Linked DNA regions of Homo sapiens. The protein of the gene in region 1 purifies or fractionates together with the protein of each later gene. This does not show direct contact. Each region holds a gene or a part of one and is shown on either strand. Other genes may lie near its edges.

Region 1 (5,608 bases):
ACACTAATATAGCATCTTTTCTTCATTATACTTTGTACTAGTGAAAACTTCAAAATACTTGGAAGTTAATAAAAATATTTTTAAACATACGTGGGATCTAAATTGGAAATAATTTACATAGGAAAAAACTGAAAAGTAATATGACAAATATGGAAAGCTCAAAAATATAGTAAAATTAGAAAGTGAACTATAACTCTAGTAGTTAATTTTTCAAAAGTATGTAAATAAAATTATTTTAAGAGGCAGCAAAATAGTCTGCTGACAACAAAGACATTGGTATGTTCTATGAACCCATACAATATAAATCTAGCTCATTAACTCTGTATAAATGGAAAATACACTAGCTCCCTATCGTGAAAAAACTGAAGCATACCATTTTCACTGAATACCTGAGATAGTGGAATCAATGGAATGATATGTATGTTTCCGTCATTCTACTAATTTCAAGCACTTCAGATAATGCTGTATAAATTGGTTTTATTTCCACTCTTGCCGCCACCTCTCCTAATTACTTCTCCACAAACAGAAAGAAGAGTGTTTAATCCATTACTCAGGTAACTCATCTTTCACTTCTTAGCTTAAGCATAGCTTTCCTAAAGAGGACTTCATTAATCTTTGGTGCTGTAAGACTCTTTTGCTCACCTAGGTATCCCCAGCACCTTGCACAGTGGCCTATAAATGTCTTCAAGGAATGAATACAGAAAACACAATTCTGGAATCATCTAATGAATTTGAATTTCTATGGAAAGCTTTAGAAAGCAACCAAGAATTTCCGTAGATTTTAGTAAGTCTTACAATGAATATATTTTCAAATTTGTCTCACAGTATAATGTAAAAAGCTGAGCAAGGGCCAAGAAAGAATCAAACACAGGTTTAAAATGAATGTTTGGATCAAGATTGTGACAATGGAAAAAAAGCGGGAAAGGGGGATGAATATAACATGTACTTCAAAGGAAGAACTAAGGCACTAACAGGAAAACTCTGTGATTCTACACCCTGAACAATTAATTCAACTCCTGAGAACATATTCTAAGGAAAGAATCCAAAAGAATAAAAATCACAATGTACTAAGTTTGTTTTTATGCCATTATCTTTAATGGTTTTTTTTTTAAAAAAAAGCTGACAAAAACAAAAATAATCCTAAATCCTGAAACAGAGAAGTAAATTACTGAACAATTTGATGGAATTATGCAGGATAAGCCAGCAGCAATCTTTCAGAGGTAGTGAATCACATTCTCTTTTATTCATATCCTGTCTCATGCTTAGGAAATGCTCCCCAAACCCTGCACTGCTTTATTACAAATAGCCAAAAGAAAGCGGAAAGCAACAGAGTAAGTTATTTCACACCTTCAACTGTTACCAGCAAAGACAAATACTTGTAGCAAGGGAAGTGAGAAAGGTTCAAGACACCAGAATGACTGAAAAATGACAATAAGAAAAGTGAGAAGTTATCAAATAAAATTTGCTTACTTCTCTGTTAAACTATAGTTCTTGTGATAATGAAACTATAAAGGAGTCAGGAAATAGGTCAAAGTTTTTTTAAGTTTTGAAACTGTTAAAAAGATTTTAGACTTTATCCTAAAAGCAATCAAAATGGGTTTTTTAAAAAAGGATTTTAAATTTGGAAATAAAAACATGTAGAAACCAGCTAGGTGGCTATTTTTCCACAAAACATAGTAATTCTTTGCCTAGGGTGGTAATGGAAAAGAATTTTTGGGGTATGGGAGATATCAAGAAAGGGCTATTTAGGCTAAGAAGGACATCTAGATTTCCAGCTTATGTAATAAATGTATGGTGAGTGGTACTAATCATGAGAAAGAGATCATTGGAAGAGGGTCAGGTCCCAGGGGTAAAATCACAAATTCAGTTTGAATATAATGAGTTTGACATTTGCATGGCAATGTTGAATAGGCAGCTGGATATATGGGTCAAAGAAGTCTGAGCTGGAGACATAAACTTGGGTTATCATGGCAAAGTTACTTAAACTTTGGGCTTAGAAGAAAACACCATGAAAATAGAGGAAAGAAAGAGGGCCAGGGATGGCTGCGAAGAATCCCAACATCAGTGGCCAAAAGAAGAGAAACCTGCAAAGGAGACAGAATAAACAATCAATCAAACGGGGGTTGGTGGGGGCGGTGAAGGAGGTACGGTGCATACCTTAGGTGAGGGAAGAAAAAAACGAGATCCTTGTCAGAAGGCCTTAACTTACCCAATCGGTGGAAAGGCAAAATCACTTCCTAAGAATAAGGCAGGATTTGAGGGTTGAAAGTGGCGGTTGGGCTGGGGAAGGGGGGATCAAGGACATTATGTTATAATGTTCTCACATATGAGAATGTAAGTTTTAAAAAAGGGGTGGGGGGGGATAAAAGTAGAATTTCTGTTGAAGTCTGGAAGAGCTAGGTCGAAAAGATTGAACAGTGGCCCTCTGATCCCTAGAAACTAAACAGACAATGAAAACGGCCTAAAGTTAGAGAGGCAAAGAAAACAGGGAAGCAGTTCACCAAGCCTAAGTCTGACAGGGTGACTAGATATAGAAGGAATCCTTTGATCATGTGACATATAAGCAGTTGAAAGACAAAATCAGATTTTAAGTAAACAGATAATGTGGTTGGGCTAATTGGTGATAATGGAAAAACTATATGCTATTAGGTAAACATTTTCATTTCACCAGTAACATACAAAGCCAATGATCAACTATTATTTAGGCCAATGATTATCAAACACCATCCAAAAAACCTGCAGATGTTGGAAACCCACCGCCAAATAACTTTAACAGTTCTGCATTTTGCAATCGATATTTGAAAAAGTTTTTCAGATAATCTAGCACATAGCTTAAGTTTCAGAATTACTGCCAAAGCTTTAGAAGAACACTTTAAATGGTGTGGCTTTGCCCTTTAAGTCACAGCAGGCTATCAAAAGAATTTAAAAATGGTATCATTATATCATTACTAATAACAAACATGCAAACCAGTGAAAGGGAGAGGAGGAGAATATTTCTGAAAGTATTCTTATGTCCCTCCTTGTTAGGATAAAGGTCCCTAACACTGTTATTTTATAAATTGTGAAACAAAAGATTTGTATGTGTGTATGGGGGGAAAAAAATCCCAGTAACAAACATTCAGGGCAGAATAAACAGAATCCTCACTTACTGTGGCTCTTACTCGAAGGTGATACAATTATCGTTTCAATATTTAGTGCTTTAAAAAAAATCATTTAGTTACAATGTGGTTTTATCATACCTGTTCTTTCTTCTAATTTAGCATACTTTGGAGTATTACACATATTACACTCTGATCTTCTGGCCCAATTCACATTGCTGCAACTTTAGAAGTGAAAAATACTAAATTAGTAGGCTATAATATAGATGAATATCAAATTTTTAGATATTTTACAATTTTAAAATAAAAACTAGGATGAAACCACTGTCAAAGAAATGTTTATTAAGTGGTAATGTAAACAAAGAAAATGTACAGTGGCCTGAAGAGTAAATGTGGGTTCCAACAACGGACTGAACCATTTAAGCAGAGAAGCAAAATTTATATAGTATGAAAAGTGCCTCTGTCATTTTGAGAAGTAAATGACAAATTATAACCACAGGTCGAGTATCACTAATCCACAAATCCAAAATCCAAAAACGTTCCAAAATCTAAAACTTTTTGAGAGAGGACATGACACTCAACAGAAACGCTCACAGGAGCATTTCAGATTTTCAGATTAGGGATGCTGAACCCACAAACATTTCAGGTAAGTGATACTGAACCTGTATAGAAATTCTGATGTCTTATGAAAAAATATAACTTTAAATTAACAGCTCCACTAATTTCTCAGTCTCTGAATATACCTTAAAGAGTATGGTTATACCCTATAAATAATATTAATTTATTTTTTTGAGGTCTCAGTTCAAGCACTGAATTCCAAAGCATACCAAATCCAGTGACCAAATCTGTAGCTGGAAACTTTTCCAATACAAATTTATAATCCTGAGGATCAGAAATTTATTTAAGACTCTAGGGTCAGGAATAGTGGCCCATGCCTCGCCTGTAATCCCAGCACTTTGGGAGGCCAAGGCAGGCAGAATGCTTGAGCTCAGGTGTTCGAGGCCATCCTGGGCAACATGGTAAAACCCTGTCTCTACCAAAAATATAAAAAAATGAGCCAGGCATGGTGGCATGGGCCTGTGGTCCCAGTTACTAAGGAGGCTGAAGTGAGAGGATTGCTTGAGCCTGGGAGGTAGAGGTTACAGTGAACTGAGATCGCCCCACTGCACTCCAGCCTGGGTGACTGAGTGGGACCTCATCTCAAAAACAAAAAATACAAACAAACAAAAAGAGAAATTTATTTAATACTTTTTTGATTTAGACCTCTTTCATACACATAGGATTCATCTGCATAGAGAAAAGATGGAAGTTGGAAAAATCAATGAAGAATTAAATCTAAGCCTGAAAATAAAAATCATTAAGAAACCTACCTATAATTAGACTTAATTACTTACGGCACACAACTTATGAATCTAACATTATTTTGTAAACAGGCAAAATGAGTTTTGTGGTGTATTTCACACTAACTATACAGTCTAAAAATTGGGATTTTTCAATAAAGGAAGTAATAGGCCTTAGTACTTTTAAGTACCACCACCCCCCGATTGGTTTTGAGCTTACCATAAGCATTTGTTTACTGGTATACATAATCCATCATAGTGACAACTATTACCATTAAAAAATGCAAAGAATAATTTAAAACTTCTTTATACTATACTTAAAGATGAGACTGAATAACAATACCTTGGATTTAAAAGGTTACCCTGGCTTGTCAATGTCACTAATAAGAGCTGTAATATAAACAAGTAGTGGCCAGATCTATTATTTTGGAAGAAAGAGCAGACAATAATTTAAAAAACATACGTTTTACATTGCCAGTCATTAGCACTAAATAGGCCTCGGCTCTTTTCTGCAAGTGTCTTTCCTATTTCAGTGCCCCCAGCTTTCATCATCTTGGCCTCAGTTGTTTTCTCTGAAAACAGAAAAATCATGCAATATGAACCTGGAGAAATAAATAAATGATACATATACAGTATAAATAGAATCTTCTTTAAATACTTACCCCGACCACATCGATTACAGCTGGTTCTTCTAGCAAAGTTTACATTTCCACATCTAAAAACAGATTAAAAAGCATTTATAAAAATTTAAATTTGTAAAATTTTACATTTTAACTTGTCCTCACTACATATCTGGAATTCATAACTTCTAATCCATCTTAGTCATGTTAATGTCAATGTTACCAACAAAAAACTCCACACAATTTACTGGGGGAAAAATACTTGATTGGAGCCACAAATTCAGAATAAGATATCCCAATCCTCCATTTACCAGTCATGTGATCTTGATTAAGTTACTTAGGATCTCTGCCTCAAGTCCTCACATTAGCACATATCATTAGTTATAATCCCTTTACAAAGTTGAAAGTGAGAGTTAACTCCACTTCACTAATTACTTACAAGCTACCAGGGAGTTTTAAACCCTAGCGGTGGACCAATGAGGAAAAAAACTTATAAATCAAGGAGGGCTTCATGGATCTTAATGAAATTATCTTTTTACATGCAGTAGGT
Region 2 (3,625 bases), on another chromosome or scaffold:
GCCAGGCTGGTCTCGAACTCCTGACCTCAGGTGATGCACCTACCTTGGCCTCCCAAAGTGCTGGGATTACAGGCATGAGCAACCGTGCCCGGCCATATTTTTAATTTCTTTGTAAAGATGGGGTATCCCTATGTTGCCCAGGCTGGTCTCAAACTCCTGGACTCAAGCAATCCTCCTGCCTCGACCTTCCAAAGTGTTGAGATTACAGGCATGAGCCACCATACCCACCCTCCATAAGCTTTTACGCTGGGCAGAAGGCAGCAAAAGGGGAGTCAGCATATCACATGGCAAAAGAAGGAGTGAGACAGAGAGAAGGACCTAGGCTCCTTTAAACAATCAGCTCTGAGGTGAACTCACTATCCCAGGGAGGGCACCAAGCCATTGATGAGTGAACCACCCCCATGACCCAAACACCTCCCACTAGACCCCACCTCCAACATTGGAGGTCACATTTCAACATGAGATTTGGACGTGCCACACATCCAAACCGTATCAAGTGTTATTTTTTATCTTTTATACTGTATTTTTACTGTACCTTTTCTATGTTTACGTACACAAATATTTAGGGGCCCACTGTGTTGCAACTGCCTATAGTATTCAGCACAGTAACATGCTGTACAGGTGTGGAGCCTAGGAGCAATGGGCTCTACCATACAGCCCACATGGCTATACCACCCAGGTTTGTTAAGCACACTCTATAATGTTCTCACAATGATGAACCATGGAACGCACTTCTCAGAATATTTAATCCTTGTCATTAAGAAAGATATGACTGTACTAATATCAGAAATGAAAGACAGGACATCATTACGGATCCACCCACTTTAAAGGAATAATACAAACAACTCTTAAAAACAACAACTCCATGCCCACAAAAGCGATAAACTAGATGAAATGGACCGATCCCTTCAAAGACAGCCAGGAGCAGTGGCTCACGCCTGTAATCCCAGCACTGTGGGAGGCTGAGGCAGGTGGATCACTTGAGGTCAGGAGTTTGAGACCAGCCTGACCGACATGGTGAAACCCCGTCTTCTCTACTAAAAATACAAAAATTAGCTGGGCATGGTGGCAGGCACCTGTAATCTCAGCTGCTCAGGAGGCTGAGGCAGGATAATCAGTTGAACCCAGGAGTTGGAGGTTGCAGCGAGCCATCGCACCACCGCACTCCAGCCTGGGCAACAGAGAGAGACTCCGTGTAAAAAAAAAGTATAATAATGTTGAAAGACACAATCTGCCAAAACTCACACAAGAAGAAACAGATGATCTGAATGAATCTGTATATTAATAACCTTCCAAAACAGAAAGCATCAGGTCCAGATGGGTTTACTGGTGAATTCTACCAAAGCATTAGGGAGCAAATCATGCCAATTCTCTACAATCGCTTTCAGAAAATAGAAGCAGAGAGAGTATCTTCTAACTCCTTCTATGGGGACATTACCATAATACCAAAACCAGATAAAGGTATTACAAGAGGCCAGGCATCATGGTGACTCATGACTCTAATCCCAGCACTTTGGGAAGCAGAGCTAGGCAGATCGCTTGAGCCAAGGATTTCAAGACCAGCCTTGACAACATGGCGAAACCCAGTCTCTCCAAAAAATACAAAAAATTAGCTGGGCTTGGTGGCATGTGCCTTCAGTCCTAGCTATTTGAAAGGCTGAGGCGGGAGAATCAAATGAGCCCAGGAGATCAAGCCTTCAGTGAGCCAAGATCGCGCCACTGCACTCCAGCCTGGGTGAGAAAGTGAGACCGTCTCAGGGCGGGGGGCGGGGTGGAGGTGGGGAGGGCTGGGCGCGGTGGCTCACACCTGTAATCCCAGCACTTTGAGAGGCCAAGGCAGGCGGATCATGAGGTCAGGAGATAGAGGCCATCCTGGCTAACACGGTTAAATCATATCTCTACTAAAAACACAAAAAATTAGCCAGGTATGGTGGCACACGCCTATAGTCTCAGCTACTCGGGAGGCTGAGGCAGGAGAATCGCTTGAGCCCGGGAGGCGGAGGTTGCAGTGAGCCGAGATCACGCCACTGCACTCCAGCCTGGGCGAATGAATGAGACTCCATCTCAAAAAAACACAAAAACAAAAACCAAAAAACAAATGACCAATTACACCAGCACCCGCAAGCATGAAATATTTAGGTAGAAATCTAACAAAACATGCATGAGATCTTCACTATGAGAAAAATTACAAGACTCATAAAAGGTATCAAATGGCCTGGCGAAGTGGCTCACGCCTGTGATCCCAGCACTTTGGGAGGCCAAGGCAGACGGATCACCTGAGGTCAGAAGTTTGAGACCAGCTTGGCCAACACGGTGAAACCCCATCCCTACTAGAAATGAAAAAAAAAAAAAAAAATTAGCCATGGGCCGAGCATGGTGGCTCACTCCTGTAATCCCAGCAGTTTGGGAGACCGAGGCGGGTGGACCACGAGGTCAGATTGAGACCATCCTGGCTAACACAGTGAAACCCCATCTCTACTGAAAGTACAAAAAAATTAGCCGGGCGTGGTGGTGGGCGCCTGTAGTCTCAGCTACTCTGGAGGCTGAGGCAGGAGAATGGTGTGAACCGAGGAAGCGGAGCTTGCAGTGAACTGAGATCGCACCACTGCACTCCAGCCTGGGGGACAGAGCGAGACTCCATCTCAAAAAAAAAAAAAAGAGAGAAAATTATAAGGAAGAGAAAATAAAATACATTTATAGTACTGTGCTGTACTGATCACTTCTGTACGTTTACACTGCTCATTTACAAGATGAATTGTCCGTCTGAAATGGTAGCAACTGCAGCTGCAGACCTCAATCTAATGTATACATCAAGCAACTCAACTTTTTCTTGTAATATCATGGCTGTTCTTGCCTTCTTGGGAGCATTTTCAGCATCACTAGTGGCATATGGATCCTATGGCATTACTCAAAGTTTATGGTATTGCACTAAACACGATGAAAAACGCCTAGGAACCCTGTGAGTTCACTTTTTACTGCAGTAGGAATGTACTGGAGAGGTGAACTGCTCCTTCGGAGATGATGAGTGTCACGTGGTGTTTCAAGGGGATACTCACGACCCTTGAGCTCCACACAATGGCAACAGGAAGTGGCATGAATTATTACAGTAGTACAGTACCTATTACAGTTATTCTTAGGCAGCCCTGATTTAATACTGCACCTCTGCACTACGTTTGTTAACATCTCTCTACGGCGAATGCTGTCATGTATGGTCTGTAAGCGTTTGCATGTAGCCTCTTCTTTTTTAGAGACAGGGTCTTGCTATGTTATCCAGGCTGGACTCCAAAAGTCCTAGGATTAAGGGATCCTCTCATCTCAGCCTCCCGAACAGCTGAGACTAAAGCCAAGAGCCACCATAGCTGGCCATATGCTTAAGTTTTGACAAATGTTACCTTTTCATAATAGACTTGTGTATATTTTATGGCAGTAAATAAAAGACTAGTATCCTCATATATTTTATGTATTCATGACATACCTAACATTTTCTGCAGACTTTGGGTGATAATGACAAGTCAACGTAGACCCACTGACTGTGGGCAGATGCTAGGAATGGAGGAGGCTGTCTGAGGAGAGGGTACATGGAGAATCTCTGTACTTTCCTCTCAATTTAGCTATGAAGCTAAAA

Evidence for each region.
Region 2: the proteins of ZRANB2 (region 1) and LUC7L purify together in Homo sapiens (affinity purification with mass spectrometry; 3 studies listed by BioGRID and IntAct, with this or other methods). This does not show direct contact.

What each region holds. Positions count from the first base shown.
Region 1 is NC_000001.11:71,073,556-71,079,163, forward strand, and holds part of ZRANB2 (zinc finger Ran-binding domain-containing protein 2), read right to left. Parts: intron 5,154-5,608; coding exon 5,101-5,153; intron 5,011-5,100; coding exon 4,902-5,010; intron 3,323-4,901; coding exon 3,240-3,322; intron 1-3,239. UniProt on the Homo sapiens protein: Splice factor required for alternative splicing of TRA2B/SFRS10 transcripts. Binds to ssRNA containing the consensus sequence 5'-AGGUAA-3'. May interfere with constitutive 5'-splice site selection.
Region 2 is NC_000016.10:201,950-205,574, forward strand, and holds part of LUC7L (putative RNA-binding protein Luc7-like 1), read right to left. Parts: intron 1-3,625. UniProt on the Homo sapiens protein: May bind to RNA via its Arg/Ser-rich domain.